Regions from separate parts of the Homo sapiens genome. Here region 2 is reported to be linked to region 1. The links are microRNA targets in miRTarBase. Many come from high-throughput screens and were not tested one by one. Region 1 holds a microRNA gene; the other region holds the end of a gene's coding sequence.
The links. The annotated mature microRNA hsa-miR-301a-3p reads CAGUGCAAUAGUAUUGUCAAAGC and lies in region 1 at 2,516-2,538, shown strand. An mRNA with a match to its seed (bases 2 to 7 or 8) in the 3' UTR can be bound and repressed. Matches are read on the target gene's strand: a 7mer-m8 pairs with bases 2 to 8, a 7mer-A1 pairs with bases 2 to 7 and ends in A, and an 8mer does both.

Region 1 (4,000 bases):
GTGCCTGCCCTGCTTTCTTCAAGCTGAATCTTGGGTCTCTAACTTCTTCCTTGGAAAGGATGGGTGGTGATCCTGGAAGAAACCTCACCCACCCCCCATTCCCACCCCAGAAAAAGTGAGGCCTTGATATATCTTATTTTCTTCTGTTGTGCTAATGAATTGGAGTGCCTCTCATATACAAATTTAATTTGAAGGCTTTCAATTACTTTTAGCATTTTGTGTTTAAATTTTCTTTGTGCAGTGTGTGTGGGGTTGGAGAAGTGTAGGGAGAAATGGGAGGGAAGAAGGAAGAATTTCCTGCAGATTTTCAAACCTGTAATAATGAACTTTTAGTTTTAAGTTTTATTATCATTTAAAAAAAACAAAATGTTAAGCATTGTAATTTGATTCTGTCAACAGGCTTAAATGTTAAGACTATCTTGCCCTTCTCCCATTCTGAATTCCTCCCTACTGATATAGATATTTCTGCTTAAATTCATAATTCATTTCTGCTAAATGATGCTAATTCTGCTTTTAACAGGTTGTTTGCTTCTCAAATTGGCTGTTTCTAATTTTTAAACTTCGTCTGGCTTTTACAGTAGAGTCAGTATTCTCACAGGACTTCTTTAGATTGAACAAATTCTCTTTTAAGTGAACAATGATGAAGTAAACATTTTGAAAAAGTAGGTTTTAGAAAATTATAAGGTAGCCAGACATTTAAACTTTTAGGTATTGTTTGAATGATGGGGTAGTATTTAAATTCTTTTTGAAGACAGGAAAAAAAGAAATGAGGTTTTTTTCCTTTCTTACATCCTTGCAAGTAAATTAGTGGTAGCTTTTTTTTTTTTCCTTTCAGGTTATTAGTTTGTTTCCATAATTATTAGGGTTTAGAAATGAATTTTTATCATGGCTCTAATTATTACTGCTTTGTGTTGACTAGATAATAAAAGACAGTGCATCTCATCTTCAGATTTACCATGTGCTTCTAGAAAAAAATGTTATACTTGTGGACCAGTTTATTTTATAAGATTTTAAGAGTAAATGATTCCTGTGCTATCTTCTGATTTTTGGTTTTACATCAGTTAAATAAAGGATTTGTCAAGGTAAAAGGAAATGCATAATATTTAATTTGAAAAGAAAGTGTTTATCCTAATTTTGTTAATACCTTAAATTTTTTAAATATTTTTCTTGTTTGTAATAACTTCCAATTCAGAAAGTTAAACACTTATCTTTTAAACAGTTGTCTTTAAAACCTGAAACTTGGCTACCAGCGTTAAATATTCTAATATTTTAGTTATGTGGCCCAGGATTTGACACCAAGACACTTATATTTCAGCTGTCCTTTGTATGAGCCCATTTCCTTAGTAGGCTCAATCCGACTAAGTAGTTGAATTGGACCGTTTAAAGGGAGGTTGGTGAAAATAATGAAAATATATTTTTGCATCAATCAACATTACTAATGGGGGAATAAGCTTATTGTAGGGCAATCTTTGTTCTCTGACTTTTTCCCCTTCACTTAATGATGGGGTGGTATTTGTTTAGCTTTGTTCTTTCGTGGTACTACTAGTGACTGTACACAAAAGGTAATGCAGTGTGATACTATGATACTATTTCTGTTTCTGGGTTTACATCTGACTTCTGATTGGGTTCTTATCCGTTAAAAAAGTTAAAATGTCAATTAGCTTGGAACTAAGGAAACTTGTTACTTAAATCTCAGTCCCACCTCCCCCCATCATTATTTTCTCTTTGACATTTCTAAGTTTGAAGGAAATGGAGATGCTTTCTGCCTCTATTTAAGATTTCAGGAGTTAACTGAAATTTTAAAATCCCCTTGGATAGTATTCAGTTAGATAGGGTTAATGTTCTGTTTAGAGCACATTGATTCCCTTCTGTTGTTATGACAGCCCTTAGTAAACTCAAGATAAAAAGCTGTAAGATGGTAAGTGCTTTTGTGTTTTCTTTGTTTAGTGGTTTAGATTCCAGAGTGATAGATTGAGTATGTAGAGATTGAGAAACTTATTATTTTACTTTTCATTTGTTTTCTTTGATACTTTTATTCAAAGGGCTTGTTTTACATGGCGTTTAATCAGTAAATTGCCTTGAAGAAGGAGCTAACCAACATCTCTGCAGAGAACAAAAATATTTTTCACAACTTTGCCTTAGTAGTAATTATAACTGGTTTTGTTAATACCAATCCTAAAGTATTAACAATACCCATTCTAATTACTATTAAGGCTTAGGGCATATTTACAAAATTCCTTTCTACATCTATGCATGTTTCTGTTCGAATGTTAATTTGTATATTAGTCATCAATAAGCAACATCACTTTGATATTTAAGTCTTATCCTTTTTTAAAAAAACATTGATATAAATGTTTTTTGGTTTTGGATGTTTTTCTGTCCAAAATGGCAACCCTACTTTAAATTCGTTTCTCACTGAAGCTTCAACCGATGCAAGATGCTTTTGTGTTCCTTTCCTACTTATTACTGCTAACGAATGCTCTGACTTTATTGCACTACTGTACTTTACAGCTAGCAGTGCAATAGTATTGTCAAAGCATCTGAAAGCAGGATGCACGCCAGAATTTTGATTCTTACCTTACATCTTTCTTCGGTATCAGTAAATAATTTACCACAACCTTTGTTGCTGAGAACTATAATGTTGTTACTAACAGTATATCTTTTAGAAAGTCATAATTTGAAAAAAAAAAACCTTTTAACTAATTAAAAACAATATTTTACTGCATTATGAAACACGTCTGGAGAATATTTTTTATATCTAAGTTGTTATGGTTTGTCTAAATGAGTAATACTTTATAATTTGTTGCTTTCTGTTACATATTTGGATAGGTTCTGTCAAACTTTAGGTTTTATTTGAGTTTTATGATGAATTGGTAGTGATGGAAACAATTTCTGCTGTATATTTTTCCTGCAGTTACTTGCCCCAAGTCATTTTTTTTTCTCCAGAGACAGAGTCTTTCTCTGTTGCCCAGGCTGGAGTGCAGTGGCCCAGTTACACCTCACTGCAGCCTTGTACTCCCGGGCTTAGATAATCCTCCCTCCTCAGCCTCCTAAGTAGCTGGGACCACAGGCGTGTCCTACCATGCCTGGCTAATATTTTCTTGAAATTTTTTGTGGAGACAGGGTCTCACTGTGTTGCCGAGGTTGGTCTTGAACTCCTGGGCTCAAACAGTCCTCTTGCCTTGGCCTCCCAGAGTGCTGGGATTATAGGTGTGAGCCACTGTGCCTAGTCCTCCAAATCTTAATTGGTGTTAATTTTGTGTATTGTCTAGGAAATGGTTGAATTTAAAACCTAAGAGTGTTTGTTTTACAGTTTATTCTTATGAGATACAATAGTGTGGATTCATCACTTTTAAAAAATATGAATTTTATTGAGATACAATTATATAAAATAAAAGTAAGTAAGCTATTTGTTAAGCAAAGCCGAAGTCTTGCTGTGTTGCCCAGCTGGAGGGCAGCGACTATTCACAGAGGCAATCATAATGCAGCACAGCCTAGAACTCCTGGCTTCAAGCAATCCTCCCACTTCAGCCTCCTGAGTAGCTTGGACTACAGGGGTGTGGCATGCCCAGTGAACTGACGAGTTTTGACAAATGTATACAGTCATGTAACCACCACCACAGCCAGGATATAGAACATTTCTGTTACTTTACAAAAAGCTCCTTTGTGGCCAGGCATGGTGGTGCACCTGTAGACCTAGCTACTCGGGTGGCTGAGGTGGGAAGATCACTCGAGCCCAGTAGTTCCAGACCAGGCTGAGCAACAGAGTGAGACCCCTACATTCCTTTGTGCCTCTTTGTGGTCAACCTCTTCTTCCCCAAGTCCCTGGCAACCACTGATCTCTAGTTTAACTTTTCCTAGAATTTCATATAAATGGAATCATACATTATACAGTCTTTTGTGTCTGGCTTCTTGCACTTAGCATAATGCTTTGAGATTCATCCATGTTGTATATTAGCAGTTGGACAGTTTTTATTGCTGAGTAGTATTCATTGTATAG
Region 2 (4,543 bases), not on the chromosome of region 1:
CAGCCTCCCGAGTAGCTGGGACTACAGGCGCGCACCACCATGCCCAGCTAATTTTTGTATTTTTAGTAGAGACGGGGTTTCACCATATTGGCTAGCCTAGTCTCGAACTCCTGACCTCAGGTGATCTGCCCACCTCAGCCTCCCAAAGTTCTGGAATTACAGGTGTGAGCCCCCACGCCCAGCTGGTCAGGTGTCTTTAGAAGTCAGGAGTTCCCAACATTGTCAAGTCACTCCACTGTGTCTTTATTAACACAATTCCTTCTGCCTCAAAGGTTGGTCCCATTTTTACCAGGATACCCATCATTCAAGATCACCACCTTTCACTGAAATCCCAAAGTTAAACTCAGTACCTCTCTTCCAGGTTCCCACATAATCCTATATTCAAATTATGTTTGTATCTCCTTCCCCAGCAGACTTCGTAAGTTTACTACTCTTCTTTGTCCCATCATCCCCATCTCTTACAAGCCTACACACTAGCAAAGTAGCTAGCACATAGCAGGTACATATAATGGATGCTCCCTGAAGAGAACAGAACCAGAACTGCTATGTACAAATGGAGGTAACTTTACAATAAAGATATTCATTTCATGAGAATGATTTGATGGCTAGAAGAGTTAACATTTATTTTTAATTATAGCAAGTCACAGAGTTGTTAAATATGACTGTAAGCTGGGGATTATTCACCAGTTACACGAGCTGGTATGCATGCATTATGTCTGGAGGTAATGAACTGTAAATCATTGAATTACAGTACAGATACATCAGCTAGTGGGGCATAAGGAGGGAAAACAGCAGAGTCAAGGCTTCCACAGCTCACTAAACCAGGTTTAGCATCAGCAATATTTATTCTCTTAACACCAGCTAGACTTCACCATCAGTAATCCCAAATGACCATGCTCATCCAGTACAAAAGGAATTCAATCACAGCTGTGGCAATCTGTTAAACACTAATCAAAATCACAGGTAGCCATTCTATGTTCCTTCCATCATTTAATTAAAAATTTCTTACAAACATTAATGTCTATGAGATTTATTTGCAAAGATCCTAGTTCAAATCAATCCAAAATTTAGAATTGTAGTACAGATTGCACATTTTAAACACCACTTTAACAACATATGCAAATACAGTCAACCCTCCGTAACCATGTAGGATTTGTGAATTCAACCAGGATGAAAAATATTTGGGAGGGGGTAGGGAGGAGGCAGAATGGTTGCATCTGTACCGAACAGGTATAGACTTTTTGTCTTGTCATTATTATTCCCTAAACAATACAGTATAACAACTATTTACATAGCATTTACATTGTATTACGTATCAGGTAATTTAGAGATGATTTAAAGTATCAAGAGAATGTGTGTAGGATATATGCAAACACTACACCATTTTATATAAGGGACTTGAGTATCTGTGGATTTTGGTATCTGAAGAGGACGGGGTTGACCTGGAATCAATCCCTCAATATACTGAGGGACAACTATATACAGAAATGGACAGATCAACACAAACAGAAAATAATTTAGTACTCACCACACAAATAATTGAGATTAATAACTTAAAAGTCCAGAAAATTCTCTCATATATTAACAGTTCACTTATCTGATATTTGGCCAGTTATGTGTGCATAATTTCAGGCCTCAGTCTACTGATATAGAATTGGGTCTAAGTTTAGTGACTTCTTGATCTGTTTTTCGTGGTAAAACAAAGAAAAGCAGTAGTAAGTGTGGGGCCACTGAAAACTGAGAAAACAGTGACAGTGAAGGAACCCACACCATGGTAAATTCTGGGGTTTTATTAGGAAATGTCATAATACTGTAGAGGCAGAGGGTACATACTTACCCATCCCTGAAAGTTGCACAGTATTACTGAATAGTACTATGACTAATGCTTATAATGATTACCCAGTCATCACTAGAATATTAACTCTACTCAGTACATTCTGATTAAGAGATGCACAGTGTAAATTTTAGGAAAAATTCCCCCCCAAAATATGAAAAGCTCAAATGCATAAAAAGTGTTACACATCAGGAATCTAAAAAATTCACTATGTGTAAACTTTCATTCCTCATAATGCCAGAGACATAAGATATTGATGTCGTTAGCTGGCTAATAAGTAGATTTAGTTCAGTTCTAGATGATAACTACAGCCTCGGTCTCATCTCAAAGCAAAGATTTTCACAGAAAAAAAAGGCACCTCAACAATGTCCATATATAAATTTTATTGCATTTGACATCATACAAAAATTTGAACTTAAGGAAGAAAATGAAAATGTGCACCTTTTACAAGTCAAAGAAAAGCAAAAGTTTTAGCATTTGGTCTGCAAAAAAAAAATACGTTAGAGGTACAAAACTGTACTACAGCAGGTCTAAAAAATGTTGGACATAGTTCTTTTGAAAAAGTTAAAACTGTTTTCAAGGTTACTTTTTATATTTAAATTTACAGGCACTGACCAATTTACAAATATTTACATAAATCAAAAAGACCCTTAATAAACACTGTAGCTTTTTTTTTAGCAGCCACCACTTCTTTCATGTGAAAAAAGAAATACTAAAAAAGAGATTTTTTACAAACATTAAGCTTTTATTTATAATAATTTTATTGTGTCTTATCTAAAACATTTTGTGGTGACTTACTGCCTAAAAATTCCAGTTTAGATTACAATCCTATAATTGTACACAGAAAAATATCTGATACTACAAACAGGATATAATCTTAACTTTGATCTCAGTTTCTGTTGCTTCATGTCACAGAGAAAACAGAGCAGGAAAATGGCAAGTAAAACAGAAGTGCACATTGCACTAAGCTATCGTAAAGCACAGGAAACAATCTTTTCAAAATGTCTACACTGAACTGATTCTTTAAAACGATTCACTAACTGTTGTAAGAGTTAGTGCTCCCATTACTACAGTGCAAAATGTATTGTTGTTTCAATACAAAATTTAAAGCAATCTCAAGAGTACATCAAAAGCATGTGAAGTACTAATGAAATGCTAATACAGACACACCCAAAGCCTCAGTCTATCCCAGTGAGTCAAGCAAAGACTTAAGGCAATTGTTCAGTATTTCATGACTGCAGTGATTTGACTGAAATGAAAGATTTCGTTTTGCTTCAAGTAACTGAACAACTGACTTGAATCTTCACTTTACTAGAACAGACTTTGACAACAAACTATCTAACGTAGGTTATACTTTAAGCATGTATGAATTAGACCCTTTCCAAAATTCTACACATCTCTTCAGGATTAGCATGTGGTACAATTAATTGAAGTTATATCAAAAACTTTTTATTTGTTCAGTTAATTTCCCAAAATATATTTTATCTGATCACCTGAAAACACATGCAATATTACTCATCATCAATGTAAACATTTTTAAAAATACATTTTTAAATCAAAGGGGTTTATTAGGAAATGTCATAATAAAATATGCAATCTTTATATGTCTTTTTAAAAATAAAACATGAAAACAAGAACTATGAAAAAAGCAACTATGATGGAGGTAAACATAATGTATTATGATGAAACTATTGTTCTTTATTTCTTGGAAGAATTTATTAAGAAATAGAGGCCAGTTATCTTTTCAGGACAGCAGCTCTTACAGGTAGTATACTGTTCAAATCTCTCTTGTTTTTCAATCTGTGCCATGACTGGGAGAGAAAGAAAAATCATTCTTAAAACCTAAAATTTATGCAGAACAAAAGACTGAGAGTTTAAAAGAATGTTAATAGTTGGTTCTCTCTAGGTGATAAATTTTGAATAATTTTTTCCTTCAAATTTTTTCTTTTTTTGAGATAAGGTCTCACTCTGCCACCCAAGCTGGAGTGCAGTGGTGCAATCTCGGCTCACTACAACCTCCGCTTTCCAGGCTCAAGAGATCCTCCCACCTCTGCCTCCTGAGTAGCTGGGACTACAGGCGTATGCCATCACGCTCAGCTATTTTTAAATTTTTTTGTAGAGACAAGGTCTCATTGTATTGCCCAGGCTGGCTAAGTTTTTATTTTCCAAGTTTTTAACACAGTGTAAGTATTGTTTCTGTCATCAGAAAAGAAAATGTTATTTAAAAACTCCATATTTTTATGGTTCCAATTCATTAATAAAGAAATGGGCACATAGGTGGTACTGAAAGATACAACTGACAATATTAATATTTATTCACGGATTAATTCAATCTAAAAGTAGCAAGGTAATTAAGACAAAACCTTTGGATTTGAGAAGAGAGGATTATTTCAATTATTTGATTGACTGTCTTACATCTTTACTAGCTTTTTGCATTAAAAACAATAATTATGAGACTGGGTATAGTGTCTCATGCCTATAATTCCAGAATTCTGGGAGGCTGAGGTGGGCAGATCACTTGAGCTCAGGAGCTGAAGGCCAGCCTGGGCAACATGGTGAAACCCTGTCTGTACAAAAAATACAAAAATTGGCTGGGTATGGTGGCACACGCCTATAGTCCCAGCACTCAGGAGGCTGAGGTGGGAGGATCATTGAGCGCAGGAGATTGAGGCTGCCTGAGTCTGGGTAACAGAGCAAGACCCTGTCTCA

Region 2: miRTarBase lists TENT2 as a target of hsa-miR-301a-3p. Seed matches in the 3' UTR shown: 7mer-m8 at 2,906-2,912.

Annotation. Positions count from the first base shown.
Region 1 is chr17:59,149,687-59,153,686 of GRCh38, reverse strand. It overlaps MIR301A (microRNA 301a), which reads left to right and starts at 2,466; the gene lies at 2,466-2,551. All of the region lies in intron 1 of SKA2 (spindle and kinetochore associated complex subunit 2), which reads left to right. RefSeq lists a silencer at 3,508-3,587.
Region 2 is chr5:79,684,301-79,688,843 of GRCh38, reverse strand. TENT2 (terminal nucleotidyltransferase 2) reads right to left here. Exons shown (of 15, transcript NM_001114394.3): 15 at 598-3,645. The coding sequence ends at 3,571. Among named protein-coding and RNA genes, the nearest start is that of CMYA5, 3.3 kb to the left of the region's middle.